2 linked regions of the Homo sapiens genome follow. The protein of the gene in region 1 interacts with the protein of each later gene in a pairwise test. Each region holds a gene or a part of one and is shown in the gene's direction. Other genes may lie near its edges. The genes, in order: VILL and LITAF.

Region 1 (16,257 bases):
TTCCTTTCAACTGTCCTCCCCTCCAAGCAGACCACCTGTCCCCTTCTATCCCAGCTCAGAGCAGCTGACCCAACTCAGAATCTCTTTCCTACAGGATGAAGTGCCTTTTGAATGTTATTTTAAGCCGAGAGTTAATTTTTCTACACAACATATTTCCAGACATCTTTTAGTCTTTTATTGTCTTAGATACTATAAGAAGATGAACATGACAATTTTCTAGAACCTGGTAGCGTGTGTGTGTGTGGCGGGGGGTGCTGAGGGAGGGGAGTGAGTCACAGGAGCCTGTCCCCCAACAGGTGTGACTGCTCTGACAACCTGTGGCATGCTGCAGGGTCAGGCTCCTGATAGGAGGATTTCATGACTATGTCATTGTCTCCACTCATTTTTGACCCAGTTTGGAATGTATCTGCAATTGTGTGGCTCAACACTTTAGGAAACAATAGATTATTTTATATTATTATTTCTGATGGTGACAAGTTTGTCTTGAGGTCACATTTTCTCCTTGAAAAGTGACATCCTGTCACTTCTGCTCTCACACTACTGCCATACATTTGTGTTTTTTGTTGTTATTGTTTGGGTAGAGCAGTTACAAGAAACCCTAAAACCCTTGGATATAAAAGAAATCTGTTTATTGATTTTTAAATCTTTCCTTTCCAAAAGCTGGATACACATGGAGCTGTTTGGGAATTTTCCTTGCTGCTACCGCGCTGCCACCAAATGGAATTGACCAGCGGCTGTTACACTGTTCTTTGCCACTGTGCCTATGCTCAGAATATGCTCACTGCTAAGCTACAAACTCGGACAGGGTCAGAAACAGAGGTGTCCCATCCCATTGCAGCCTCCACCACCTGTAACCCCTTCCTGGCATTGGCCACTGAAGGGTACAAAGGCAAAAGGACCACAGCACCACTTAGGTGTAGCATGGATTTTAAACTGCAGTCAGTATCAGATCCTGTTTGATAAATAAGCTGACTGTTCTCTCTTGAGAACCTGTGGCCTCAACCAGCCACCAAGCTGATGTGGCCCAAGTCCATCTCTTGGTCTTCTCCTTTGAAGCACAGCCTATTTCTGAGCCAAGGGTTGGGGAAGCCTGTCTAGATGTGGGACTCATTGCCCCAAACCAGGGAGAGGAAGAGCTCCCACAGGGAGAGCCCAGGCTCTCTTTGCAGCCTTTCCCAGTTTGGTGTTTAAGCAGTGCCATGTTCCTTGTTTGACAACAAGACAGTCTGTAAAGTATTGCTCTTAAAAACAATTAAAAAGAACCCTTTCATATTGGCACCATTGCCTTAGTCCTCTGTGGGTTGGTCTTCAGCCAGCATTCTGGTGGGAGTGACTGGCATTAACAAGACTGGAAATCGGGGGTCAAAGTAAAATATCTTTGTTTTGCTTTCATTCACAAAGTAATGAAGCCAGCTGCCAATTACATCCTCCCAACAGCACTTTGGTCTGTGGACTGCTGTGTGAATATTCAGAAGGGAAGTAAGTATTCAGGGGGTAAACAGGTCTCCCAGCATTCTGAGTGTTCCAAACCAGTAATCCACATGCCAATTCAAATAGAACAGCCCCTTGCTAGATATTACCACAGATAATGACAGTTACATGGTAGAACTGCCCATGCCACAAATATTTATTTGGAAAAGTAGTCATTAAATGAACCCACTGCCTTAAATGTCTTGAATGTTGCAGTCAAGTGTCTGTCATGTGTTGATATCCACACAGAATTAGGCCCTAATGAGAGCCTTAGACCCTCAACCATGCCCCCTTCGTTGGCATCACAGGGCCTTATTTGGAAGAGCGGGCAAAGAGGATGGAAATCATAAAATATTTCATGGGAATCGAACCTAGGGATAGTGCTCCACTTCTGACGATGGAGTGAAGACACTTGGCAGACTTGAGCCAGACACTTCACCTAGTAGTTCCTGAAACTGTGAGCACCACTGCACTAAGCCAGTGCGGAGCTGTTAGGGACGGGCCCAGCTCCTGCACCACGGACACAGAATGTCTGGAGAGGGCCAGCAGGCCCTCTGAGGGTTCTGGAATCTGTGCACCTTATTTGACCACACTCCAAAATTCTGTTTTTATTTTAACCCTTGAATCTGCTTTATGTACATAATCAAAATATCTATATCTATATCTATATCTATATCTATATATTTTTAATCATCTACATGTAAATGAAGCAATAGAATTCTAACATAAGGCCAAGAAATGAGACGAATGTTTGGGGTTTATGTTTTTTAAGGTAAATACGGGTATTGTTTTTAATTATTACCATGTATTAAATTGTGGGCTTTGAAACCTAATGAAACCTGTTAGCCACTTCTCTGTGCCATATACTTCCCATGTTACCAAAATACCCCCAACTCTTTAGCCAAAAGAGAACCCTGACCTCCTGAGTTTCCATGCTCCTTTCTGTACCAGGTTTAAATGTAGTCTTCTGGAGAAGTATTTTTGACATTGAGCTCTGGGACAGGACACCTTGGGTTTGTGGACTGCAGCCCACTATGATGTTATTACTTCTCTGGCCAGGCCTCCAGTGGAAGTGCACAGGCACTCCCAATGTTGTTAATGCTCTGTCTTCCATTTGTTCTGGAATCCTACGTGTTGGTCTGTGGTTCCATGCATTAGCTGTTTGTAAATAATGCATTTGCATACTGAAAAAGGAATGCCACCTGCCACAGTTGATGGTGAGGAAGCTCCTTTGACGTGGTGCAATTTTGATGAGATGTCTCTGGGGACACGAGGATGCCCTAATGATGCTGACTTGTCATGGTTGCAGCATTTGAACTTTTGGTGTTAAAAAAAAAAACCTGTAAGTCTGTAACCTGGCAACATTTTACAACCCTGTATTTTTAAAGATGGCTTTCTAATAAAAAATCCAGAACCACACAGCCCTATGGTCAAACAATCCTACGTTTGTGCCTCTGCTTTTAAAGGTGCTGTGCTGGACAGTTGGCATGCCAGGGTTCGAGAAGAGTGAATGGCTTGACGTACTTGCAGTTAACTGTGCAAAATTGGCTGGCTGCCTCTGTTCCTACTGTACTGTAACTTTGATCATGTCTGTTCCTGTTCCATTCTCCCAGGAGCTTCTCTGCAGACTGACACACCCTCCCCCACCCCGGGTAGTGGAGATGCTGGTGTCTGGGTAGTCATGGATTTCTGCTGGACATTTGAATGTGATAAACAATCCAGCATTACTTAGGAAATGCTACATGCGGAATGTGCACGTTTCCAGGGGCGAGTATTGTCAATCAAAAGGTTTGCAATGATTTCCTTCCTGCCAAAAATAAACATGTGAAACTGCACTCTTTTGTGGATTGACTACTTTTCTACCAGAAGCGCCTCTCCTCCCTCCCTTCCCCGCCTCCTGCGCAGCCTCATGCCATCACCTTGGGTCTCCTGGTATCCCCACTTCCGGGGAACAGGGGTGGATGGGAGTGGGGCTGCAGCACTCCAGGAGCCACAGACTGATTTTCTAGCTCGTCCATCCCACCCAAATTGCCTGTCACTCCAAGGGTGACTGCTGTTCAGCCCCCTGGCTTCCTCCCTCCGGAAGCAGTATGGCTCACTCTTCTCCCACAAAGATTCCAGCCCTCCCAGCAGGCTGGAAAATGCAGCCTGAGAGAACTGGGGCCTCCCATTCCATAAGAACCACAGGCATTATATGTGGTGCCTAAACCCATACCCATACCCATGGGCACAGTGGCCAAGATGATTGCCCGATGAAGCACGGCAAGGAGTCGGAAGAGGAGTCAGGATGTCCCAGGCAGTTTCTCGCAGTGAGACATTCTGTCGCCAGTGCCCTGAACCCAGTCCCTCTGTACATGCAGGTGAGAGAGGCAGCGACTCCTCTGCTAGAGACTCCTGGCAGGGACTTGGACATGGCTTCGCCACTCTCAGGACTCTTTCTCTTCATGATATCTGATTCGGATAGCACCAGTGTCAATTTCATAAGGTAAGTCTTATCCCCATTTTGTGGATGAGAAAACAGGCCAGCGAGACAAAGCTCTGCAGTCTGCTCTATCACAAGATACAGGATTCTACCAGGCATGTATATTCATCCCAAATAACTCAGGACACAGTATGTGTATCAGCCCAGGAGACCTAATATTTACCCAGAGACAAAACCCCAAATACCCCACAGCTAAGCCTGTGCCGTGCCCCTAGGTTCTTTGTCATCACAGTGGAGCAGCTGGCCAGCCAGAGAGAAGTCACTGCAGCTTCCTCCCCTGGTTCCAGACTCCTAGGCTGTGTCCTTTATTCTGCTCCCCAGCCCTCTCTGTCCCTCTCTCACCTTCTCTGGCATCAACCCTGTACCCCACTGCTTCACACCTTTGCATACAGGCAAACAGATAAAAGGCTGAGAGTTGTGGCAGTGCCTGAGGCTGAGGTATCCTCATGAGTGTCCACTGGTCCCCGAAATAGGTGGGAAGGACACACGGGGCATCAAGAGGGCACTTATTTGGGACTTGGACATGCTGAGATATGCCCTTCCGTGTTTTCTAGTTTGAGCACATATCATCTGTGTGTATTACAGGACCAAGGAATGGGCAGGAAGCCCAGGAGGGTGGGAAGGAGTGGCTGGGAAAAGCCAGCCTGGGAACAGTGGCACATCAGCTGACGAACATTCTGTTGAGCTTATGGATAAGGAGTGCATTGAGGGCTTGTGGCCGAGTTGTGGAGTAACCTGGATGCTTGCACGATAAATCTCCTGTGTCAGGGCTGGCTGTGGGTCAGCAGACTGTTCAAGGCCCAGAGCCATCAACTGGCATGGCCACCAGCCTGACCTCTGAGAACAGAGGCCATCGGGAGGAGGACATGGCCCCAGAGCTTTCCACCTCAAACCTCCATTACAGCTCCCTCTCCTGGTGCAGTGATTCTCAGCTCTGGCTGAAGCTGTACCCTAGAATTACCTGAGGGGTCTCAAACATACATCCCTCAAGTCCACCACAGACCATTTCCAATCTCTGCATATGGGGACCTGCGTCATGTTTTTAAGTGCCAAGATGACTGGAAAGGGCAGCCAGGGCTGAGACCCCCTGCTCTGACTGGCTACAGAGGAAAGGCAAGTCCTCCGAAACTGTTCCAGGCCTGATGCCCAGGTGTGGCAAAGGAGCTGTGGCCAGAGCTTTGGGGAAAATGACGTGTTGCTTTACCTGAAAGATCAGCCATATACATGTTCATTGCTAAAAAGTTGGAAAATCCAGAAAAGTACAGAGAAAAGCCCACCTGGGCACTGGGAGCCTTTCCCAAGGCAGGGGTGAGGAGGGAGGCCTGGTGAGACCCCTGCCTGGCTGACAGCACCTGCTTTCACACAGGTGGGGAGCAGAGTGGAGCCCCCCACTACACATTGGAAGGATCACACTGCCCACTAGGCACGGACCCCAGCCTTGCACCACCACCCTTCCAACAGGCCAGGGCTTTCCTGACCCAAGCTGGGTCCTAATGGGTGGGCGTGCTGCTGGGCAGGACCACAGTGGGCAAGGCAGTGACACCTCTTTGCAGGGGCCCAGGGTTGGTGTTTGGTCTGTCCTCTCACCCAGCTGTTCCCGTGGTGTCCTCGGGAGGAGTCACTTCCAGCCTATGCAAGCTCCAGTGACCATTGCCACAGCTCCTTCCACATCCTGCAGCCCAGGGCGGGACCACCAGATGTGGGGACACATGCGGGCCCATGGCTGCTCCCCTCCAGCGCAAGGAGCCAGGGCATCTCCAGGAGTGGGCTCCAGGACCTGAGTCAACAGTTCTCACTCCCCATCCCTGTCTGCCCTCAGAGAGGGACGCTCCTCACAGAGCCCGGACTCCACCACGAGAGGCAACATTCTGCACCTGCCTGGGAAAGACTGGAGAAGGCCTGGGGGATGAAGCCTGGGATAGGATGCCTGAGCCCAGAGAAACTGGGGCGGAGCCTGGACTTATCTTGGGGCCACTCCTTCACCTGGGTCAATATTGACATGGAGCGGGCTGGGCCTTGGAGATAAGCCAGGCAGGAACAAAGTAGGCCCCAAGCCCTGGAAACTTGATGAGTGAGGGGGTGGTAGATGAAGGGAGGCTGGGGCAGGAAGAGGGCAGGGCTTTGCTAGCAAGGCAAACTCTGCCCAGGGCCCTTTTGACTCCTGGCAGGCCCCCTTGAAGAGGGGTGGAGGTGGGGATGGGGATGGGGTGGTGGGACCCCTTTCCTGCTAGGGGGAGGAGGGAGGGGAAGGCTAGGCATCCCACCCTCCCATTCTTGCAGCACCCAGCTGCCTGTGAGCCTGCCCTGGGCCTCAGTTTCCCCTCTGTGTGCCTGGGGTGTGACAGCCATGAGCCGGAGGCTGTCCAGGCCAGACTCAAGGCAGTGCTGCTCATCTTGGCCCCAGGCCAGGCTCTAAGGCCAGACTGCCATCTATCCTGGGCCTGGGATCACAGGTTACAGAGTAGGTGGTTCTGGACAGGGCAGTTCTCTCCAGGTGACATCTTCTGGTTTGCAGAGACCCAGACAATTCCGAGGGTTGGGGCCTTGGAGAAGTTCTCATGCCCCCCACTAAGCTGCTGACACTGGATTGTGCCAGCTGGGGTATCTGGCCCACAACCAAAGTGGAAAGGGGTCACCCCCTCAGCTTCTCAGAGAAGGAGGACTGAGCCCAGTAAAGGGTCCAGATACACACACACACACACACACTGGGTCAGGCGCAGGCCACAGAAACATGTCAGCAAACGTTTTATTAAGCAACTGCAGTGCGCCAGGCACCGTTCTAGACACAGGTGGACAACAGCAAGGCCCTGCCCACAGTGACTCACAGTCCAGCTGGGACACAGACACTAACCAAAGATCCCACTTAGCAAAGAGACCAGCTTCTTGGAGCACCACGATGAGGAAAGTGGTGATGTCTGAGGAGGGAGACTGCTGTGGCTAAGGAGGGCGGGAAGGGCCCTCTGTGGGGCTGCCATTTTGGCTGGGACCTAAATGCAGTAAAGGAGCAGCTACGGGAATATAGAGAGTGGGGCTTCCAGGCAGAGAAGCCTGCAGTGCAAAGGTCTGCAGACAACGACCTGGGCGTCTTCAAGGGACACAAGGAATCATATTGCCAGAACACAGTAAGCCATGGGGAGAGTGATGGGAGAGGCAGCCGGGAACGGCCATTGAGAGTTTCATCCCAGTTTTAGTGGAAGCCACTGGAAGGTTTGGGGAGGGGGGTGATGTGAGCGGGTTTATGGTTAAATTCTGAGGTTGAATTTTCCCTCTAGTTAGTCAAAATCATAGAAAATAGAATGGTGGTTGCAAGGGGCTGGGGGCAATGGGGAGTCTATGTTTAATGGGTGCAGAGTTGCAGAGTTTCCGTTTTGTAAGATGAAAGAGTTCTGGAAATGGTGGCAGTGGTTGCACAACAATATGAGTGTCCTTAACACCACAGAACCGTATACTTAAAAGTGGATACAGGCCGGGCGTGGTGGCTTACGCCTGTAATCCCAACACTTTGGGAGGCTGAGGCCGGTGGATCGCTGGAGGTCAGGAGTTCGCAACCAGCCTGACCAACATAGTGAAACCCCGTCTCTACCAAAAATACAAAATTAGCCGGGTGTGGTGGTGCATGCCTGTAATCCCAGCTACTCAGGGGACTGAGGCAGGAGAATCACTTGAACCCGGGAGGCGGAGGCTGCAGTGAGCCAAGATCATGCCATTGCACTCCAGCCTCGGCAACAAGAGCAAAACTCTGTCTCAAATAAATACATAAATAAAAAGGGGATACAATGGTAAATTTTAAGTATATTTTACTACAATTTTTTAAATCTTGTGAAAAAAAGATTTTTTATATTTTACCACAATTTTTTTAAATCTTAGGAAAAAAGATCCCTCTGGCTACTGTGGTAGGATGGTCGTAGCGGCCAGGCAGACCCAGAGACACAGAGGGAGGCTGGCTCCGGAGCAGGCAGGAGGCGTGAGAGGGAGGGCCAGGCCCAGGATCCACCATGAACCAGCTGCCGACGGGCCAGTGGCTTGCGGGAGAGAGAAATCAGGGCAACTCCAGGTTTGGGGCCTAAGCACCCTCTGGATGTTCACACTGAACGTGTTCCTGGGGCTCAGAGAGGGTAGATCTGGGAGGGGCCTGAGGCGATGTTAAATGTGAGACCAAACGTGCTGGGAGAGATGTGACAGACGGAAGATGGAGACTTAGGCCGGGGCAAGGTTCGGGGGAGTTGGGTCAGGGAGACACTGGCGTTTCCATGCTATTTGCAGCCTTCAGACTGGAACTGGGAAGGAAACTGGAAAACAAACAGGAGTGAAGGCCCAAGCTCTGCTCCTGCTGCCATTTAGAGGCCTGAAGGAGACAGGTGGAGTGAGAGGGGAAGGAACAATGGTGACTGAACTGACTGCCGCTTGGTTGACAGCGGGCATTGGTGACTTAGGAAAGAGCCATTGCCAGGGAATTCAAGAACAAACAGAGCGGGTGGGCTGAGGGGAGATGGGGGAAGAGTCGGTGGGAAGAAGTGAGGACACAGAGTCTTCCTGGGCACAGAGACAAAAAGGGACAGGGAAACGGGTATGCACAGGTACAGTGGACACACTGCCACTGTCACAGACAGGGTCCCTGTCCCAAGTGGGGATCAGACAGACATGCCAGGATACAGGCACACACATGAGGTCGGACAGGCAATGGCACACATGGGGACGAGCCAAATGCCTGTGACACAGGCATCCCTTCACACACAGGGACCCTGCATTGTGTCTGTTAAACACAGTCACACACTAGCTGTAGGTCTTGCTGGACACAGACTGCCCCCGAGTCCCCAAGTCCCCAGACCCCTGTAACAGAGACCTTTGTGGGGTGAAGACTGAACACAGGGAGAGGGTCTTGGGCAGTGGGCAGGCTTTAGCAGCGTGGCTTTGATGGGATGGCCCACGCTGGCTGGGCCTTGGCTGGGACTGAGGCCCTAAGCCGCCAAGAGGAGGTTGTGCCCCTGGAGTTTCTGGAAGGCTCTGTTTGCAGCCCCTCCACCCCACAGTGAGAGAGAGAGAGTGGCAGTGGAGTGGCAGCTGAGGTGAGGGAGAGGTGTCTTCGCTGCAAGAGCTGGACTGGCCTCTCCCATGATGGGTATCAGGGTTCCCTGAGGAGGGCTGTGCCAGGCAGTGAGCTCACATTTGGGTAGGGACAGCAGAAATATCTAGAGGGAGCCCTGACCACCTTCCCCTCCTGAAGTGAGCTGGGTCTCACAGAGCCTGACCCCACAGCCCCCAGCCTTGGTCCTACTTCCTCCTAAAGTTTGCTGGAGTGGCCTGGCCCTCTTGGTCCAGGCGGAGCCCACCACTCCGGGTGAGGGATCAGGGGCCCATCTAGTACTCCAGAGAAGGAAATCCCAGTATCTTCCACACCCCACCTCTTAGCCCAGTCCAGGCCTCCATCCCCTGCTCTCTCTGGCCACTGGTACCCAGGCAGTGAGACCTGGGAGACTTAACCATAGCCCTGGGGAGGGCGCTGGTCCCGACGGCTTGCTCGATATTTGTTGACTGGCTGACTAAGTGAATGCCTAGCCCGCTGAGCACTGTGTGGTGGGGTGTGTCCTGCAGGGCAGGAGCTAGGATTGAGTTACAGTGGTGGGGACCAGGAGTAGGGAGGCAGAGACTGGCCCCGTGCCAGGCCTAGCACTGCCCACAGGCAGGGCGAAGGCGCGGGAGCAGTTTCCAGCAGGTAGGCCTGGGCAGAGAGTTGGGGGGCGGGGGTTTCCAGGGAACCAGTGGGGCAGAGTGGGCTATTCAAGTCAAGGGCATAGAGCATAGGGTCCCAGGGCTCAGGGCCACAGAGCCTCCGCGGCAGAATTGGGAGGCGGCAGCAGCCCAGCAGGTGAAAACACTGATGGGGCAGGGCAGCTGTGGCCGGCAGCCCAAGGGGAAGAAAGTGGCAGATTTTGTAGATGGGCAGGGAAGTCCGTGGCCCACAAATTCAGTGTGCCTGCCCCCAACCCTGGCCCCATCCTCCTTTCCCCTCACTCTAGAGGGCGGCACCACTCCCTGCTCCATGGAAACTGAGCAAGGTAATCTCGGGCTCCCTTCAAAGGTACCCACAAAAGAAGGAAGGGCTCCTGTAGGGAGAGAAAGAGGCACTGGAGGAGGGAGAAAGCGAGGAGAGAGGAGGCACCCAGGGACACGAGGGGCAGGGGGAGAGAAGAGGGGGTGTGTGAAGCGGGTAGGGAGTGCCCCGGGAAAGAGAGGGGAGCCTGGGGAAGAGAAGGAAAGACCTGGGGAGGAGGGTGGGGAGGGAGAGAGGGAGGGGTGTAGGGGAAGACAGGGAACCAGGAAAGGAGGAGGTGCCTGGGGAGGAAAAATGGGAGAAAAAGGGAAGGATCCCAGGGGAGAGGGGAAATCAGAGGGGAGAAAGAAGAACCAGGGGGAGGCAGGGGCACCCAGTGGGGACAGAGGGAAACCCTGGAAAAGCGGAGGCGTGGGGCATGGGGAGAGAAAGGGAAACCAGGGAAGGAATTGGGCATCCGGAAGAGAAAGGGGCCCTGAGTGGAGGAAGTGCACCCCCAGGGAAGAGAAGGAGGGCTTCTAGGAGAAGGGAGAGGACCAGGGATAGGAGGGTTCCCACTTGGGAAGGTGGTGAAAGGGAGTTCCCCAGAGGAAAGAGGGCAGGAGGGTTTGGGAGGCTGGAGGGGGCACTGTGGGGGGTTCCCCTGAGGAAAGAGGGCAGGAGGGCTTGGGAGGCTGGAGGTGGCACTGTGGGGAGGGAGGAGGCCCCCAATCTTTGAGCACCCATTCCTCCCTGGAGTCCAGGTGAAAGAGAATGAACACAGGTGCCATGCGAGTGCGACCTCAGCCCTGGCAGCTGAGGGCTTGGCTCTACGGGCTGGGGCTGGATATCAGACGGGCTCCCGGACCCCTGGGGGCGATGCTGCCTCTCCCAGTGACACCAGCCGAGTCCCAACTTTTTGGCTGCCAGTTTGACTTTCCAGTCCCCCATGTGCCCTGGTTGACACTGTTCTGAGGCCATCCAGTAGTCTTTCTGGCACTCTGTCACCATGTTGTACTCTTCCATGAGCTACAGCTCACAGTTTCTGTCTGCACCTCTGGTCACTGCCTGCCTGGGCCTCTGGTAACTGTCACTGGTCACTATTTCTGCCTATTACTCAGTGTCCTTCTACGGGGCCACCACTGGTGGACATCCTGCTTGTCACCCAATGTCCTCACGTTTTCTGTTGCTTGAGATCACCTTTTCATGGCCACTATGTCTGCCTGTCACTCATGTCATTGTCACACCAACAGGCCATCAACTGTGGCAACAGTTCTTGGGGCAATTAGGGTGCACGGACGGCTCCCTTCTCTATTCATTTTCACTCAGTCCAGTCGCAGGGCAGCACACTTCACTCATTCAACAAGTACTTACTGAGTACCTGCTGGGGGCCGGGCAGCTGGGATCCCACAGTAAACAACAAGACAAACCCCTGCCTTCAGGAATCTGCTGCTCTGGTGAGGGAGACCATAGCCAACAACCATCCTATGGTTTCCATAGGGTGTCGGGAGGAGCTGTGAGCTGTGACGGACCCAGCTCTAACCCCCTAGAAGGACAGCCCACTCTGCCCCTGCTCCCCTGCCCCACAGCCTCCTCCGCTCCCACATTTCTTTGGCTACATGTTGGGTGTTGCCACAGTGTACTGTGAACTCACCAGGGCCAAACCAGGGGCCCTGACAAAGGTGTAAGGAATGTGAGCCACTCTATGACACCTATTGTGCCACACCTGATTCTGTAACTCTGTCCCCTCACCTTGTTCTGCCTGGAGCCAAGGGTGTTCCTGCTATTGATAAGACACAGTGGGAGTGGAGGGGGAGGAGGGAAGGACTAACACACCAGGGTCACCCTGAGTGAGAGATTCAGAAAGAAGTGACTTTTGGACCAAACCTCACACACAGGTTTCTGAAGGAGTGGTGCAGGGAAGCCTCAGGTAATTGAATATGAAGTGCCAAGACATAACAAAATCGACAGAAGTGAGGGTCCCTTCCTTCCCCCAGGTACTTCTCATTCCATGTCACTGTCATTCACTGCCCTCTCATTCTCTCCCTCTCTGCACGCGCAGAACCACAGAGCACAGACTCGAGCAAGCTAAATCGCTATTTGCAGAGCCTGTGGCTGTTTGCAGAGCCTGTGTTTATACAGAGTTCAGCTCTGTTTCAAGAATTTGTCAGCTGAAGCGGGAAGATCACTTGAACCCAGAAGGTGGAGGTTGCAGTGAAGTGTGTTCGAATCATGCACTGCAGGCTAGGGTGGCAGAGCAAGACCCTGTCTCGAAAAAACTGGAAAAAAAAATTGTCAAGTGTTTATGCCTAATCTGCCCAACCCACTCATATCAGCTGAGCCTGTCACTTGCTGCAGAATCTGAGTCTTCATAGTCTGTGTGCTGACATTTGTGTGTTTACAGAGCCCTCCTAATAAAAGTCATGTTCTATAATGAAGTTGTACAGGTAGCCAGGTGTCGGTCTCCAGCCTGAGAACTCTGGCTGTTGTTCCTTGTGTCGTCCCATATTCCTGCCTGGCCTGCGATGGACATCAGCAAGGGCCTCCCAGGCATGCAGGGAGGCCTCCACATATGGATCTCTGAGGTGAGAGGCACGACCAAATAGGAGAGTTGGTGACATGGAAGAGCGTGGGGTTTTCCACACTAGGCTTCTCCCGCCCCCAACTCAGAGCGTCCTCTTCCACCCCACCCCAGCGGGTGTCATGGGTAGAGGCCTCCTGAGTTGTTACAGGGAACTCTCCTCTCCCAGAACCGGAAGATGGTGCCGGTACCCGAGGGGGCTTACGGGAACTTTTTTGAGGAACACTGCTATGTCATCCTCCACGTGAGTCGCTTGGGGAAGTCTGCCTGAGAGGGGTGGCATGGCCCGGCACTGGGGAGACTGAGGCACAGGCATAAACTCTGCCCTGGGAAGCGGCAAGTTGAGAGCCGGAGAATCACATCCCACAAGGGGGCGGTTACCGTTGAGGCTTCTTAGTCCTTCCCTCCCACTTCCTGATCTCCGCGGAAGCCCCTGCCTAGCGTCTCCCCATGGCCCTTGGTACATCCTCCCCTTCTCCACCCGCACCTCCGTCTTCCCCGCAACACATATACACAAACACCCGGACCCTAGGTCCCCCAGAGCCCGAAGGCCACGCAGGGGGCGTCCAGCGACCTGCACTACTGGGTCGGGAAGCAGGCGGGTGCGGAAGCGCAGGGCGCTGCGGAGGCCTTCCAGCAGCGCCTACAGGACGAGCTGGGGGGCCAGACCGTGCTGCACCGCGAGGCGCAGGGCCACGAGTCCGACTGCTTCTGCAGCTACTTCCGCCCGGGAATCATGTGAGTGCGGGGGCGACCGGGGCAGGAGGGAGCCGTGGAGGCGGTGCCTTGGCTGGGGCAGTCTTGGGATGGCCATCGTCCACATCCCTGAATGGGGCAAGCCGGGAGGGGTTGGGTAACACCTTTATTGAGATACAACTCATACGCCATACGATTCACCCATTTAAAGTACATATACATGTCAGTGATTTTTAACAGTTGTGTGCAACCATCACCACAATTTTAGAACATTTTCATCACCCTAAAAAGAAGCCCCATACCCCTTTGCCACCACTCCCCATTTCCCTCCAACACCCCCATCCCCTGCCCTAGGCAACCACTCATCTGCTTTGTCTATACATTTGCCTCTTCCGGGCATGTCATAGAAATAGAATCATTCAACAAATGGTCTTCCCTGACGGGATCTTTTTGTTTTAACACACTGTTTTCATGGTTTATCCATGTTGTAGCATGTGTTATTACTTCTTTTTATTACCAAGTAATATTGCATTTTATGAATATACTACATTTTATTTATCCATTCATCACTTAATAGACATTTGAGTTGTTTCCACTTTTTGGCTGCTATGAATCTGTTTTTATGAACATTTGTATACAAGTTTTTGTGTGGACAAATGTTTTCATTTCCCTTGGTATATACCTAGGAGCAGACACCAATGTTGTTTTGAGTTTGCTTTTATGTTACTGTGCTGGTAGGAATATATCTTTCGCTGTAAATTGCTTCACAGGTGTTTTAAATTAACACTAGCAATATATTTGGAAATATAGGAAATTGCTATTTGATCATTTCCATTTCATACAGTTGAACCTATATATGCATATAGCATATACATGAACACATGCACACAAACATATGCGCAGATGCAGAAACACACACCACCCTCATGTATGTCCACCTATAGATGGACATGTGTGAATATCCATGTTCACCTACACACATATATGCTGTTGCCCACCTTCATGCACTCACCATCTAGACTTACAGGGATAAACAAATACACAGTGTGCCCCCAAATGTATGTACATGTACACATATATGCATGTGTCCACATGACTACGCATGGAAGTGCACTACACATGGAAATGAATGCACACTCATGCCCTATGTGTGCACCCATGTACTTATACATACATGTGTTCACACAGACTCCAGTGCATGTATGAAGCAGGCACATACGTGCACGTGCTCACATCTGCAGTCATTCATGCACATGGCAGTCTGTGTTCTTATATACACAGAATGTATATACCCTCCTGCTATTCCCACCTCAGCTACAGGAAGGGAGGCCTAGCATCTGACCTCAAGCATGTGGAGACCAACTTGTTCAACATCCAGCGACTGCTGCACATCAAAGGGAGGAAGCACGTGTCTGCCACTGAGGTGAGGCTGCCAGGGGAGCCTCTTGACCTCTGAACTCGGCTCAGACTGGGTGTACTGAGGTATAAGGAGGTTGGAAATTGGCTGGGGTTGTGGGGAACAAGGAGCTGTCAGCATTCCCAGATGGTCTTGAATGAGGAGAACAGAGAGGACACCAGGCTTCTAGCCCCACTTCTGCCACTGCTCCCCGGACCTTTTGTTTATGCGTCTATCTCAGGGACATATTGAGAACATGGGCACAGCTACTTGGGAGGCTGAGGCAGGAGGATCGCCTGAGCCCAGGAGTGATTCATGATGACACCACTGTACTCCAGCAGCTTGGGTGACAGAGAAAGACCCTGTCTCTGAAACAAAAAAAGAACTTGGGCAGATGGGGCAGATGATATGGCGCCTGTGAATGGTCCTTGTTAGCAGCACAGTGAGAGGTGGTGCATAACCTCGCACTCTCTCACACACATTGTCATTGTCACCTATATGCACACACACTGTCTCCCACTGTTATCCCCGGGTGCTCCTCTGGTCCATAGAGTGCCCTTGTGCAAATCAGAACAGTGCCCCTTTCTTCCATCTGTCAGGAAATTACAGGAAAATACTGGTTTTGTTAGAACAAAACATTTTGCTGCCATCTGGCCAGAATTTGGTGTAATGAACATTCAGGTGTACAACGTCTACAGTGTGAATGGTAACCCTTGAGGTATGCAAGTGAGTCTGCATAGGCAGCCTGTGACACAGAGACAATCCCACATAGGCTCTGCATGTCACCCACAGACCCAGTGACCATACATCTCTGGTCATTCAGGGACACCATGAAGCCCCATGTTTCTCCTATTATCCTGGCATAATTATCTAAAGTACTCCCTTTTACTCTCAAAAGTGTGTCCGTTTGGAGACTATCTTCATCCATAGGTATTCACTGTCACCATAAGCACACTTCTTCACATGTGATGTCCCCATATACATACATGTGTATATGCACACACACAAAAGATAAACAGATACACCCCACCTGTATACATGTGTACATGTATACATGTACAGCAACAGACATGCACTGAGTGAGAAGTGTCATAAGTCATGTACACCCTGTGGAATGCAGCATTATCTACAGTCACACATGCCTACGTACACCCAGTTTGCATACAGCTTCATGCACACGTGACACATCCCAGCTATGCTCCCCTCTAGCGGATGCTGGTGGTATGACACTCTGTCTCTCTCCCTGGCTCTGGCAGGTGGAGCTCTCCTGGAACAGCTTTAATAAGGGTGACATCTTCCTGCTGGACCTAGGCAAGATGATGATTCAGTGGAATGGGCCCAAGACCAGCATTTCTGAGAAGGCTCGGGTCAGTGTCTGCCCAAGGAACTGGGGAGTACGGGGCTTGGGCGGGGAATGATCCTCCAGTTGACCATCCTCCGGCCACCCAAAGAGTTGGGCTTGGCTCTGCTACAACCCAAGAAACGCCTATGAGTTACAAGCTGAGTTCAGACCCTGCATTGTTGGTGTCCCCCTGGATGCCAGGATGAGGGGACATCAGCCCTTCTCCCCATCAGCCTCTGGGAGCTGAGCAGTGACAGGA
Region 2 (15,658 bases), on another chromosome or scaffold:
GGTCACTGGGAAATCTACAGTTTGTGGAAGCCACGGGGTCTTCCAAGCTCCTACCAGTCTTCCCAAAGAGGATGCCTCCCTCCCCTTGGCCTGGTGCACTGGTGCTGGTTCAAAGACTGTCTGAAGCCCAGCTTGGGGTCCTCTTTAGGAAAGCCATGATTTGCCTTAATGTGTGCTTGGCTGCTTCATCTGCCCTCTCACCCCCTGCCTTCTCAGAGTGACTCTTTTTAGGACTTCCTATTTAGGACTAACCCAGATGCCTACAGAGAGAAGTGCAGGCTGGTATCTGGAATTCCACCAGTGTTTTGGTTTTATCAGTTGGAGCAGGATCTAGATGGCGTGTGACTTGCTTTACCTGGCATAGAGTAACACCCATATTGCACTTGGCTTTCTTCTCCACCAGCCCTTGCTCTGGGAACTAAATGTGCACCAAACTCTCTAAGAAACATTTAATTGTAATCTACCATGAGGGAGGCCCATCTCCCTCTTTCCTGTTACTTTAAGGCATGAATAATTGATGCATTTATTCACATTTGAGAAAGTATCTTGTAATGTTTTCACAGATTAAGTGACTGGGTGATTGATCTAAGACGTAGGATCAATTTCTTTCTTTTTTTTTTTTTTTTTTGAGACAGAGTCTCACTGTCGCCTAGGCTGGAGTGCAGTGGTGCGATCTCGGCTCACTGCAACCTCTAACCCTCCCCACCCCACCTCAACCCCCTGCCTGAGTTCAAGCAATTCTAGTGTCTCAACCTCCCAAGTAGCGGGGATTACAGTTGGGTGCCACCATGCTTAGGTAATTTTTGCATTTTTAGTAGAGACAGAGTTTTGCCATGTTGGCCAGGCTGTTTTCGAACTTCTGACCTCTAGTGATCCACCTGCCTTGGCCTCCCAAAATGCTGGGATTACAGGTGTGAACTACCTCACCCGGCCCATTTCTTAAGTCTCTAAAATAGTAGATTGAAGTGTAATTCACTGTCTTTGGGGAATACATTTCCCTTTGTTACTTCCGTTCCTTTTATGGGCGGGCTGTTGAGAAATAAAGCGCTACCCTTGCCGTGTAAAGGATGCAGAAGAATGGCTCCTGGTCCTGAGGGGTTTACGCAATGGGTAGAAAGTAGAAACACACACCGGCGAAAAAGCTGGTGCTTGCTAATGCCCTTGTAACTCCAGAAAGGGCTTGAGAACAGTGGAAAGGAGGCAGCTAAGTTAGAGAAAGTTTCATGGAAAAACTGAGGCCTGAGCACATGTGGCAGAAGGAACATGAGGACATAGTTCAGACAAACAGGAGGGTCTCAGTAGAGCTGTGGAAGAGGTACAGACAAGCCCAGGTGGTTGAAGACAGTAAATGGAAAATCCACTGAGAGGAAGGAGCTGGAAGGCGTTTCCAGCCCAAGTTAATTTTCAAGAAAATAAACAGTGCATATTTTGCTGACATTACCCATCCTCACTGCTCAGAGGTGTATAATAGCACTTTGAGAATGGGCTGGTGCCGTTTTGTGACTTAAACTTCTCCCACTGAATAGGAATTTCCCCAGAGCTACAGTGAGGGTGGAAAAAAGAGGATCTGCAAGAGGAAGTCCTGTATTCTTGGCACTGTGACTTGTCCTCTATTTGTTTTCGCTTTTACAGCAGTGAAAATAGCCCCGTGGGTGAGGCGGTCTATCAGGTAAATAGACTTCCTTAGTTCTGTGTTTCTTTAGCACACATATTTTTGACGTCTCCCGGGTCTGTTTGGCCACCCATGGTCTGTTCTGAATTTGATTGATGTTTACTTGCCTAAGAATTGTTATTTGAGGTCAAGTGGCATTTTCCAGGGTCCTCATAATTTCATCTTGTTGTTTGAGCCTGTATTGATTGACACTCTGGACACAGGTGACAACAGCTTTGTAGCTAATGAAGTTGTCCCTTGGCTGCAGGTTATTTCAGTAGAAGAATTGTGTAATTTCATAGAGCTTAAGGCATGGACACAAGAAAGGAACCATTCTGGAGGGTGTCTATGTGATGGTAATTCTCTGCTCACCTCGCAGTAGGTAGGAGTTTATATACCAGGATCCAAAGCTGGAGGCTTCAGAGAAAATAATGTTGGAGAATTTAAGCTATTTAGCTCATGGAGCCTTAGATTTAATTGACAGTGTGCCTCAGGTAAGTTTAAGAGCTTAATGATGTCTTGCCTTAAACTTGAATCCATGAGGTTATTCCTAGATGATGCACTGATAGTTTGAAATTTTTTATTAAAAAATATTAAAGTGTGGAAGATAAAGAAGAAAGGCATAATCTTATAGAACGAAACAACTACCACTGGCTGTCCTTATCGGGCGGCTTCTGTCTTTTGTCTTTGTGCCTGTTTTCTATGAAATTGTCATCAGCGTTCATACAATTTTGTATCCTAATGCAGTCTCAGTCTTATTAATGATCTCCTTGCACTGTTTGATGAAAAACTGTGATTCACGTGGAAACTAGGGATGTGGTTTCACCAGGAGTCCAGAGGAAAACTGCCCACTCTGATTGTGGGGGAGCAGCCCAACTCCCCGATGGAAGCATTTTCCATTCCACAAATCACTGTGATTTGTCATTACGCCATGCTTGAACCTGGCTTTAAGATTGTGGTAACTTTATCTTTGACTTGTGGGACATACCGCCCTGCAGAAACAGCCTGAACTCAGAAGATGGAATTGGCACACATTTCTCTGAAATATTTCACTCTGAGCTTCTGTACTTTTACTGAGGTCTACTGAAACTGGAATTTGTTTGGGATCAAATAACCAAAGGCCAATTTCTCGCTTCCTTTCCCAAAGAGCTGGAGGTCCGGGTTTCCCCTTTTGTCTACCTTCCTGCTTAACCATTTATGGCTTAAGACGCACCATTCACCTTGAACATTTTCAGGAATGATAGACAGGTTAAATTCCATGACAACAAAAACCGTATTGCAGAATTATTGTAGCTTAAAACCTGCCAGGTGACCCTCCTTAGTTTAAGAATTTTAAGCAATATTCAATTTAATAAGTGTACAATTTGGATAGTTCCTGAAAGTTGATTATAGTCAGGATCCACTGTGCTCCCATTATTGGAAATAACGTTTTTCTCCAGAGACCCTAAAAGACCAGACCTTTTTGACCCTCGCAGCTGGTTCTCTTTCTTGTTTACAAACTAGGCTATTTTCTTAGGGGACCTGACAATTTGCATGTGAGTGCCCTTCTTTTGCCTAAGGAATCCCTTTTTTTATTCTGGGGTCATTTCTGCGATATACATATTCATGGGCCTAGCTTAGTGTTTCTTTTCTGGGGGCTGGGAGATGGAGACCAGAGTAGAATTGAATATTTCTCCTTTTTCTTCCTGGAAGAATCGATCTTCGAGGATTAAGTTGGTAGTTAAAAAGCCGCTTTATCTTTCTGAAGGCCTTGCCCTTTTATGTGTTGATCTGATACCCAAATGTAGAAAACAGTTCTATACACAGCTTGAGGATATATTTTTAGAAGAGTTTACCACCCACATGTGGCTAAAGCTTTGTGGGGAGTTCTTTTTTTTTTTTTTTTTTTCCGTTGTGAGTGAAATAGATATTTCACTATATCTTGCTCTTGTTTTCAAACCCTTTAAAAAGCCATTGACCATTTTCTCTTTTATTTTTAGTTGACACATAATAATCATACACATTTATGGGATAAAGAGTGATATTTTCTTATATGTCTCCAGTGTGTAATTGATCAAAGAGTAATTGGCATGTTCATCACCTCAAACACTTATCATTTCTTTGTGTTGTGAGCATTCAGAATTCTCTCTTCTAGCTATTTGAAAATATACACTGAATAATTGTTAACCATATTCACCCTACAGTTCTACAGAACAGTAGAACTTATTCCTCCCATTGAACTGTAACTTTGTACCTATCAACCAACCTCTCTCTAGCCTCTCTTCCCCTCCCCTTTGTAACCTCCAGTAACCACAGTTCTTTTCTCTACTTCTGTGAGCTCAATTTTGTCGTCCTTCCTTTGTGGAAGCTGTGAAATACCTTTCGAGGGGAGTGCGGACTTGTGGTCAGGTGTAAATATGCATTCAGCTGGGCAGAGTTTGGGAGATTCCTTTAAAACCTGTTCTTTTGCTGAAATTCTAGGTATCTTTTTATTTTATTTTATTTTTTATTTTTCACCTCATCAGTTAGAAGTGTCAGAAACTCTCCTTTACCCCCCACTTAGTCTTTGGCATTTAACCAAAATATACTTTATTTACTTATATATTTTTTGAGATAGGGCCTTGTTCTGTTGGCCAGGCTGGAGTACAGTGGCGTGATCACAGCTCCATGCAGCCTCAACCTCCCTCTCGAGCTCAAGCCATCCTTCCACCTCAGCCACCACACTAATTTTAGTGGTTTTTTGTTGTAGAGACAGGGTTTCGCCATGTTACCCAGGCTGGTCTCAAACTCTTGGAGTGAAGTGATCCATCCATCTTGGCCTCTCAAAGTATTGCCATTACAGGCATGAGCCTCACCCCAAAGCACTCAAATTTTGTTTTTTTAAATTGAACTTGAGTGCTTTGGGGTAAGACCTGCCTATTCCATTTCACCTTATAGTTTTTCTTACTCTTGGCCTATGTAGGGGAGAGAGAAGACTTTCTTTCTGCCTTCTGAAGGTACCATAATTGAGCCTATGAAATAAACTGATGATAGATTAACGGATGAAAATACATACAAATTTATTCCATGCATAAATGTGGGAGTCCCACAGAAAGTGAAACTCAAAGCAAGGTCAGATAATTGAAGTTTATGTAGTGTGCCTGAGCTACGAAAAAGGAATAAGCGGCTGGGCGTGGTGGCTCATGCCTGTAATCCCAGCACTCTGGGAGGACAAGGCAGGAGGATCGCTTGAGCCCAGGAGATCAAGACCAGCCTGGGCAACATGGCAAAGCCCTGTCTCTACAGAAAATACAAAAATTAGTCTGGCATGGTGGCTCATGCCTGTGATCCCAGCCACTCTGGAGGCTGAGGCAAGAGGATCGCTTGAGCCTGGGAGGTCGAGGCTGCAGTGAGCCGAGATAGTGCCACCGCACTCCCGCCTGAGTGACAGACAAGACCCTGTCTCAAAATAAAAAAGAAAAAGGAATAGGGGCCTGGGGCTCCTGGAGGCAGGTGGTGATAGGTTATAGAAGGGTAAGGGGAGGAAATGTATGGTGAACAAAGGTTGCCTTGTTAATGCAGATAAAAAGCCTCTTGAATGATGAAAGTTGTCTCAGAGTAGCCTCAGAAGAGCAGGTGATGGCTTGTGACCAGGTGTCGACCTTCAGTCTCCTCTCCTAAGTTAAGATCTTCCAGCCAGGCACGGTGGCTCACGCCTGTAATACCAGCACTTTGGGAGGCCAAGGTGGGTGGATCATGAGGTCAGGAGTTCAAGAACAGCCTGGCCAACATGGTGAAACCCCGTCTCTACTAAAAATACAAAAATTAGCCGGGTGTGGTGGTGGGCATCTGTAATCCCAGCTACTCAGGAGGCTGAGGCAGGAGAATCACTTGAACCTGGGAGGCAGAGGTTACAGTGAGCTGAGATCACACCACTGTACGCCAGCCTGGGCCACAGAATGAGACTCCGTCTCAAAAAAAAAAAAAACTTCACTGGTTGATGAGGGTCCTATGATAGTCACTTTCCTTTACACAGATCAAGTATCTCTTCTCTGAAATGCTTGGGACCGGAAGTGTTTCAGATTTTGGATCTTTTTTTCAGATTTTGAAATACTGCATTCTACTTACTGGTTCAGCATCTCTAATCCAAAAATCCAAAATCCAGAATGCTCCAATGAGCATTTCCTTTGAGCATCATGTCTGTGTTCAAAAAGTTTCAGATTTTGGATTTTCACATTTGGGATAATCAACCTGTAGATTTCAATTTATTGTATCAAAGGGCAGCTTTTCAGAGCTGCTCCTGTGTCTGCAGTTTCTCAGAATAATCAGCTCAATATATGCCAAAGAAATAGATCCTGAGGTGACATGTTCTAGTCTCCTGCAGTCATATTTTGGGGTAGTGTGTCCTGAGCCCCATCACCTATCTGACTCATTTATAAGTGGGATCCCTGAAAGTATTTAAATAAACTTTTAATTTTGGCATAATTTTTGATTTGCAAGAAAGTTGTGAAGTTAGTACAGGGAGTTCCTCACCCAGTTCCTGGTTCTCTCCATTATTCACATCTTACATCACACAGTATGTTTGTCAAACCAAGAAACTGATGAGGGTATGTTATTGTTCACCAAACTCCAGACTTTATCTGGAGTTCCCAGTTCTCCCACTGATGTCCTTTTTTTCTGGGCCAGGGTCCTAACCTAGGGTACTACATTGCATTGATATATTTTATTTTATTTTATTTTATTTTATTTTATTTTATTTTATTTTATTTTATTTTATTTTATTTTATTTTTTGAGACGGAGTCTCGCTCTGTCGCCCAGGCCGGACTGCGGACTGCAGTGGCGCAATCTCGGCTCACTGCAAGCTCCGCCTCCCGGGTTCACGCCATTCTCCTGCCTCAGCCTCCCGAGTAGCTGGGACTACAGGCGCCCGCCACCGCGCCCGGCTAATTTTTTGTATTTTTAGTAGAGACGGGGTTTCACCGTGTTAGCCAGGATGGTCTCGATCTCCTGACCTCATGATCCACCTGCCTCGGCCTCCCAAACTGTGTTTTATTTTTTTGAGACAGAGTTTTGTTCTTGTTGCCCAGGCTGCAGTGCAATGGCACAATCTCAGCTAACTACAACCTTGGCCTCCCGGGTTCAAGCAACTCTCCTGCCTCAGCCTCCCGAGTAGCTGGGATTACAGGCACGCACCACCACACCCAGCTAATTTTTGTATTTTTAGTAGAGATGGGGTTTCCCCATGTTGGCCAGGCTGGTCTCGAACTCCCGACCTCAGGTGACCCACCCGCCTCGGCCTCCCAGAGTGCTGGGATTATAGGCATGAGCCACTGTGCCCGGCCCCACATTGCATTTAGTCATCTTGTCTCCTCAGCCACCCTGGCTATGTTAGTTTCTCAGTCTTGCTTTGTTTTTCATAACCTAGATACTTTTTGAAGATGAGGGATTCTGTAGAATTTCCCTCAAATCAGGGTTGTCTGATATTTTTCTCATGATTACAGTGGGGTTGTGGGTTCTGGGAGGAGAAGACCACGGAGGTGAAGTGTCCTTCTCATCCTGTCACATCAGAGGGCACATGACATGCACATGACATTGCAGATGTTAATATCAAGGGAGAGAGTAAAGTATTCCTGATGTTAATTAATATCAAGAGAGAGAGTGAAAAGGAGGTATTTGCCAGATTTTCTCGCTTGTAGTTTACTGTCTTTCCCTTTTCATAGATGGAGTTTTGCTCTTGTTGCCCAGGCTACAGTGCAATGGTGCGATCTTGGCTCGCTGCAACCTCTGCCTCCTGGGTTCAAGCAATTCTCCTGCCTCAGCCTCCTGAGTAGCTGGGATTACAGGCATGTGCCTGTATATAGACATGTTTCCCCATGTTGGCCAGGCTGGTCTCGAACTCCCGACCTCAGGTGATCCACCCGCCTTGGCCTCCCAAAGTGCCGGGATTACAGGCATGAGCCACCACGCCTGGCGACTCTGTTCTTTGAAAGAGAGTCAAGGAGTCCAGCCCACACACAGGAGAGGAAAGGGAGAGATTAAATTCCACCTCCTACGAGGTGCCATGGCTCATGCCTATAATCCCAGCAGTTTTGGAGGCTGAGGCGGGTGGATTACTTGAACCCACGAGTTTAAGACCGGCCTGAGCAACATATTGAGACCCCCATCTCTATGGAAAGTTAAAAAAAAATCGCTGAGTGTGGTGGTGCACACCTGTAGCCCCAGCTACTCAGGAGGCTGAGGTGGGAGGATCATTTGAGCCCAGGAGTTGAAGGCTGCAGTGAGTTACGATCAAGCCATTGCATGCCAGCCTGGAAATAGTGGAATGAGCAAGACCCCATCTCTACAAAAAATAGAAAATTAGCTGGGCTTGTTGATGCACACCTGCAGTCACAACTACTCGAGAGGCTGAGGGAGGAGGATCGCTTGAGCCCAGGAGGCTGAGGCCATAGTAAGCTATGATGGTGCCAATGGTGCCACTGCACTCCAGCCTGGGTGACAGAGTGAGACCCTGTCTCAAAAAAAGAAAATAAAATAAAAGTGCATCCCCTGGAGAGGGAGTATCTACTCATACTATTTGGAATTTGTCAGTGAGGAAGATTTGTCTTTTCTTGTTTAAAAAATAGACACTTCTGGCCAGGTGTGGTGGCTTACACCTGTAATCCCAGCACTTCGGGAGGCTGAGGTGGGTAGATCACTTGAGGTCATGAGTTCGAGACCAACCTGGCCAGCATGGTGAAACCTCATCTCTACTAAAAGTACAAAAACTAGCCGGGCGTGGTGGTGGGTGCCTGTAATCTCGGCTACTCGGGAGGCTGAGGCAGGACAATTGCTTGAACCTGGAAGGTGGAGCTTGCAGTGAGCCGAGATTGTGCCACTGCACTCCAGCCTGGGCAACAGAGGGAGACTCCGTCTCAAAAAAAAAAAAAAAAAAATAGACACTTCTAATGAGCTGATGCCATAGATACCCTGTCATAGATGGGATAGATGTGCCATATGGGCACAGGAGACCTCAGCTGTGCAAGGATGTCAGATGCACTTGGCTTTCTCAAGCCCTCGTGGGGAAATATAGATCACATCCCTTCCCCTGGGGTGGGCAGAGAGTAACGTAATATGGTCCAGTTAGGGAAATATTAATAGAAGCTAACTTGCAGACAGGAAGCAATTAGGATGCAGGAGGAAGACATATGTCATCAAGGGCTAGATCATGTGGTGTCAGCCAGGGGATGTGAAACAGGCATGAAAAGCGCTTGACAGGCAATGTCCACCACCACCCTGTTCCCACATTATCCGTAAGTCTTGCTAAAGGCAAGATTGCTGTTTTCTGGAATTTTCAAAGACAGACAGTTGGACTACCTGCAGTCATCTGGAATTTGGCCAGAACAAAGGAAGTAAGCAAATAGAAGACTCCCAAATAAGGTATATATTTATCATCAAAGCAGATGCCCAAGCCTGTTTACCTCACTCAGAGGAGGCGCCCACGGCAACTATGAACTCTTACTTTACACAGAGTCCTTGCACGCTGGGTTCTGCTGGTGTCCAAGTCCTCAGAGGCTTTGAAGTAGCAAATTGTGTTGGTGGGATGGAGCCGCCATCAGCCCCATGTTGGACTGTTGGCAGCCTGGGACCGTGTAGAACCACAGATGTGGACACAAGCATTTTTCCTTTCCTTTCTCTTTTTCTCTTTCTCTCTCTCTTTTTTTTTTTTTTTTTTTTTGCAGATTGTAAGAAAGGAGAGGGGAATATGGGAATTTATTTATTTATTTACTTATTTATTTATTTTGAGACAGTGTCTTGCTCTGTTGCCTAGGCTGGAGTGCAGTGGTGCGATCTCAGCTCACTGCAACCTCCACCTCCCAGGTTCAAGCAATTCTCATGCCTTAGCCTCTGGAGTAACTGGGACTACAGGCATGCACCACCTTGCCCAGCTAATTTTTGGATTTTTAGTAGAGATGGGGTTTCACCATGTTGGCCAGGCTGGTCTCGAACTCCTGACCTCAAGTGATTCACCCGCCTCGGCCTCCCAAAGCACTGGGATTACAGGCATGAGCCACCGTGCCCAGCTGGGATCGATTTTAGAAAAAGATTAAGGCTGAGTGCAGTGGCTTATGCCTGTAATCCCAACGCTTTGGGAGGATCACTTGAGGCCAGCCTGGGCAACATAGTGAGACCCCGTCTCTACAAAAAATTAAAAATTAAAAAAACTAGCTAATCATGGTGGCATGTGCCTGGAGTCCCAGCTGGTCGAGAGGCTGAAGTGGGAGGATCACTCGAACCCAGGAGTTCAAGGCTGTAGTAAGCTATGATTGCGCCACTGCACTGCAGCCTTGGCAACACAGCGAGACCCCGATTGTAAAACAAAGTTCAGTTTAAGAAAGAAAAAAGAAAAGAAAAAGGTTAAGATACTTTTTTCGGGGGAATGTTTACAGAGGCTGTGGGTCAGAATGAAGCAACACCAGAAGCTATGGAGACTGGGGTTTCTGCTGTGTTTCAACTTGGTTTTTTGTGTTCTCGGGAGAAGACACCCTTGGCCGTGGGCCGTGAGACCTTTGATGTGTGTTTACGCTGACCGCGAGTTGTTGGGATGGCTTCTGCGGTGGGTGGTTCTCTTGGTATTCTCGGTTTTGAAGCTTATTTTTAGACTCTGAACTCTCCTTCTTGGCAGGAGTTGAATCCCCCTGGGGGTTTTCAAGTTGTTCTTGGACTGCTGGTTTTTGAAATAGAAGCCCCTTTGGTGGGGTCCCCCATAAACCCAGGCGCTGGTGCCCACCTTGTGATGTGAAGGCTCCTGTAACACGACCTCACTTTCCTGGCCCCGCACTACTCACCTGCCCCACGGGACACAGGTACATGGCTTCTGGGTGTCTGTCCCCGCTGTACCCAGATCTGCCCCCTTGCCCTTGTCCCCAGATCCTCCACTCGCTCCTAGGAACCGTACCCCTCCCAAAACAAAAAAAGAAACTATACCCAGTCTCCCCTTCATATCTCTCCCACATCTGCCCCTGTTGGTTGACTTTGCCTCCCTATATGGGTCCCATAAGGCCGGCAAGGGAGGGTCCACATCTCTCAATCCTTTGTCCACCATTGGTGTTTAGAACCCCCTGGAGGAAAACTGGATCATAGTGCAACATGAAAAAAAAAGAACTTTAGGCCGGGTGCAGTGGCTCACGCCTGTAATGCCAGCACTTTGGGAGGCCGAGGTGGGCGGATCACTTGAGGTCAGGAGTTCGAGACCAGCCTGGCCAACATGGTGAAACCCTGTCTCTACTAAAAATAAAAAAATGAGCTGAGCGTGGTGGCATGCACCTGTAATCCCAGCTATTTGGGAGGCTGAGGCAGGAGAATCGCTTGAACCTGGGAGGCAGAGGTTGCAGTGAGCCAAGGTCACGCCACTGCATTCCAGCCTGGGCCACAGAATGAGACTCTGTCTCAAAAAAGAGAAAAAAAAAACTTTATATTGACAAATAGGATGTTGTTAGTGCAAATTTTGGGGTTGATATAGTGGGAGTGGTAAAGGGAACGTCTTCTTACCAAATAGAAATAATTAGAAGCTTTAATCACTCTGCAAACAGGGAAGGTCCCAGGGCCAGGTGCTGGGCAGGAACACAAAGGGCTGTGATGACATCACCTTTACCCAGAGGCGGGAAGGACCCAGGATGGAGGCCTGGGGAGGGCAGAGACAGGTTTGCAGAGGAGACTTTCTTTTTTAATTAAAAAAGTATGTATTTTGTAAATATGTAATATTACTATGGCTTAACATACAAAAGACCAGCAAGGGTGTAAAAGTGACCAGTGTTTGTCACACCCCATCCCCTAGTCCACCTGGTTCCCTTCCCGACAAACACCGACCGTTAAGTTTCTTATGTATGCCTTTGGAGACATTTTTTGCATATTATATAAAGAAATACTAGGCCAGGCATGATGGCTCATGCCTGTAATGCCAGCGCTTTGAGAGGCCAAGGTGGGAGGATTGCTTTAGCCCAGGAGTTTGAGACAAGCTTGGTCAACATACTGAGACCCCGTCTCTACAAAAAATAAAAAAATTAGCTAGGTGTGGTGGTGCACACCTGTAGTTCTAGCTGCTCTGGAAGCTGAGGCAGGAGGATCGCTTGAGCCTGGGAGCTCCAGGCTGCAATGAGCTATGATCATGCCACTGCACTCCAGCCTGGGCAACCCAGTGAGAACCTGTCTTTAAAAAACCCAGTGAGAACCTGTCTTTAAAAACAACAACAAAAAAAAAACCAAAAAAACGCCGGGCACCTTGGCTCATGCCTGTAATCCCAGCACTTTGGGAGCCCGAGGCGGGAGGATCACTTGAGGTCAGGAGTTTGAGACCAGCCTGGCCAACGTGGTGAAACCCCATCTCTACTAAAAAGACAAAAATTAGCTGGGTGTGGTGGTGGGCGCCTGTAATCCCAGCTATTTGGGAGGCTGAGGTAGGAGAGGTGCTTGAACCTGAGAAGTGGAGGTTGCAGTGAGTCGAGATCGCGCCACTGCACTCCAACCTGGGCAACAGAGCAAGACTCCTAAAAAAAAAAAAAAAAAAAAAAGGATATCTTCTTCTCTCACCATACACAAATGGTGGCACACTACAAACACTCTCCTGCCTCATTAAACATGATAGTATATCTTGGTGGTGATTGCATTTCTCCAAATAAAACTCTTCCTCGTTTCAGTACCTTGTGGGGAGGGACCATCCCTGATTGGTACCCTTGCCTTGCTGGCGGACTAGGCTTCTGCTGTTACCAGCAACGCTGTAGTGAATACCCCATGTGCTTGTCATTTTGTCATTTCAGCCACATGTGGGGGTTATTGCCAGCACACATTTCTGGAGGAAGAGTTGCTGGACTTGTTCATGTTAAATTTGGTTGGCCGTTTCTGTTGCAGGAGCCTCAGTTTATCGATACCCAGGCTAGCTCTCTGTGTGTGTTACCAACATTTTGCTCTTTGCCTGGTGGATGGGTGACAAATGATATCATGATATCATGGCATTGGTTATGGGGTTTAAAAAAAATCTTTTATGGCCGGGTGCAGTGGCTCACTCCTGTAACCCCTGGCCTTTGGGAGGCCGAGGCAGGCGGATCGCTTGAGGTCAGGAGTTTGGGACCAGCCTGGGCAACATAGTGAGACCCCATCTCTACCAAAAATACAAAAAGTTAGCCAGGCGTGGTGGCACACGCCTGTAGTCCCAGCTACTCAGGGGGCTGAGGCATGAGAATTGCTTGAACCTGGGAGGCGGAGGTTGCAGTGAGCTGAGATTGCGCCACTGCATGCCAGCTTGGTTGACAGAGTGAGACCCTGTCTCAAAAAAAAAAAAAAGAGCTTGAGATGTGCAGAAAATTGGTACAATTAATACAGAGAGCTCCCATTTACTGTCACCCAGCATCTACTTCCCTATGGGACACTGGCCACAACTGCTTCTCTGACACCGCTGCGTTACTGTTTACCAAACTCCAGGCTTTATTTGGACATCACCAGTTTTTCCAACTAAGGCTTTTCTGTGCCGGGGTTCTACGTTGTATTCAGTTGTCACCTCTCTATTCATTGTCCTCTGGTCTCTGACAGTTTCTTGGACTTTCCTGTTTTCCGTGACTTTGACAGTTTTGAGGAGTGCTGGCCTGATGCCCTGTGGCCGGTTTTCTCATGACTACGTGGGGCTGCGGGTTTAGGGGAGGAAGGCCACAGAGGCCCTTCTCACCTCATCCTGTCAGTCAGCCGGTGTGTGATGTCCCGTCAGCAGGTGTGTGATGTCCCGTCAGCAGGTGTGTGATGTCATGTGACTTCTCGCTGGTGTGTGATGTCATGTGACTTCTCGCTGACGATATTCAGCCCGATCATCTGTCTCTGTGTGGTTTTAGTTGCATCTCCCTGCTTTTGAGGAGGACTGGAGCATCATTTCATGCATGAGGACTCGGGGTGTTGTCTAGGGGAGGGCTGTGGTCAGCTTGATGCGTTTGAGGTTGAGGGGTGGGGGGAACCACAAGGGCTTCGTGCAGACCCTGCGTACCTGGGGAGCAGGAAGGGAACAGGAGTGTCTTGACGTGGAAGGTGGATTTGGAGGAGAGGCAGGTCACTGGAGGGGCTGAGGACCCAGGCTAAGGCAGGAGGGGGATTTTGTTTTGATCTGTTTATTTGTTTGTTTGTTTATTTATTTATTTATTTTGAGATAGGGTCTTGCTCTTTCACCCAGGCAGGAGTGCAGTGGCGTGATCACAGCTCACTGCAGCCTCAAACTCCTGGGCTCAAGTGATTCTCCCACCTCAGCCCTGTGAGTAGGTGGGACTACAGGTGCGCACCACCACGCCTGGCTAATTAAAAAAAGAGACAGAGTTTTGCCATTTTGCTCAGGCTGGTCTTGAACTCCTGGATTCAAGTGATCTCCCCACCTCACCTCCCAAAGTGCTGGGACTACAGGCATGAGCCACCGTGCTTGGAAAGATTAAACCATTTAGGAGACCTCAGGAAAAGAGCCAGCCGAGAGGGCGTGATTGGCAAGAGGGGACATTGTCTGAGCACAGTCCCTCCCAGAGACCACAGGGCCCACTCCCACCTAGAGATGGCCACATTCACCAGATTGAAGTTTGAACCAGAGGAGGAGGGCTGCTTCTGAGCCCAGGGCGGGCAGACAGATGCCTGGGGGTTCAGGTGGGAGGTTGAGGGGGTCTGACCTCTGCCTGGTGCCCCCTGCTGTGGGAGGGGGAAGAGTGCCCATTGAGAATCTGCAGGGCCAGTGGGGAATCTGGGCAACCCAGCTATGAGGGTGGATGGATGAGTTTTCTAACTCATTACCCTGAACTCAGTGGCTTAGGTAACGTGAATGTAGTATCTTCCAGTTCTGGAGCCTGAAGTCTGCAGTGGGCTTCCTCAGATTAAATGCAATGTGTCGACTGGGCGCAGTGGCTCACGCCTGTAATCCCACCACTTTGGGAGGCCGAGGCAGGCGAATCACCTGAGGTTAAGAGTTTGAGACCAGCCTGGCCATCATAGTGAAACTCCATCTCTACTAAAATACAAAAATTAGCCAGGCATGGTGTTGGGTGCCTGTAATCCCAGCTACTCAGAAGGCTGGGGCAGGAGAATCGCTTGAACCTGGGAGGCGGAGGTTGCAGTGAGCTGAGATCGCACTACTACACTCCAGCCTGGGCGACAGAGTGAGACTTGGACTCAACAACACACAAAAAATAGCAGTGTCAGCTGGACTGTGCTCCTGGAGGCTCCTGGGGAAAATCCATGGTCTTGCCTTTCCCAGCTTCCAGAGGCCGCCTGCATTTCTTAATTTATGGCTCCTTCCTCCCCCTTCAAAGCCAACAGCTTCCTTTTTCTACATTTAAACCCAACAGAGGTCTTGCTCTGTTGCCCAGGCTGGAGTGTAGTGGTGCAGCTGTGGCTCACTGCAGCCTCAACCCCCTAGACCCCACCCCCCAACCTCCTTCTACCTCAGCCTCCCAAGTAGCTGGGATGATACATGTGCGCTATCACACCTTGATAATTTTTGTAATTTTTGTAGTGATGAGGTCTCTCTATGTGGCCAGGGCTGGTCTCGAACTCCTCTACCTTTCTCTTATAAGGACCTTTGTGATTACACCGGGCCTACCTGGTTAATCCAGAATAACCCCCTCATCTCAAGATTCTTAATCACATACACAAAGTCTGTCTTTACCACTTAAGGTCACATATTCAGAGCTTCCAGGGATTAGGCTGTGAACAATTTTGGGGAGCATTATTCTGTCGCCCACACTGCGGGTAGGGGTGGGAAGGTCAGACTGTAGGGGATTTAGCCAAACAAGTGAATGTCTACCTGTGAAGCCGTGGAGGTACTGGGTACAGAACAGGTCCCTGTGGCGGGATGAGGTCTGTGCCTGGGTCCTCCTGCCTCTCACAGTGAAGCCCCCGTGTGACTGTGGGAAAGTCACCCCCTCCCTGGGTTTTACTCTCCTCTGTAATGACAGCTGTGTGTTGATATAATAGTAACCTGCTTACCCAATGTTCCGGTGTATTTTGCTCACTACATTCTCACAGCAGCCCTCTGAAGTGTAAGTACTACTGTTGGC

What was found.
Region 2: the proteins of VILL (region 1) and LITAF interact in binary tests that used the Homo sapiens proteins (3 or more experiments, as listed by UniProt).

Annotation. Positions count from the first base shown.
Region 1 is NC_000003.12:37,981,165-37,997,421, forward strand, and holds the start of VILL (villin-like protein), read left to right. Parts: upstream 1-9,621; 5' UTR 9,622-9,665; intron 9,666-9,969; exon of another isoform or gene 9,970-10,008; intron 10,009-12,422; 5' UTR 12,423-12,508; coding exon 12,509-12,568; intron 12,569-12,733; coding exon 12,734-12,808; intron 12,809-12,973; exon of another isoform or gene 12,974-13,096; coding exon 13,097-13,302; intron 13,303-14,574; coding exon 14,575-14,683; intron 14,684-15,912; coding exon 15,913-16,023; intron 16,024-16,257. Other genes in the region: CTDSPL (CTD small phosphatase-like protein), read left to right, coding at 661-727. UniProt on the Homo sapiens protein: Possible tumor suppressor.
Region 2 is NC_000016.10:11,570,201-11,585,858, reverse strand, and holds part of LITAF (lipopolysaccharide-induced tumor necrosis factor-alpha factor), read left to right. Parts: intron 1-8,866; exon of another isoform or gene 8,867-10,453; intron 10,454-15,658.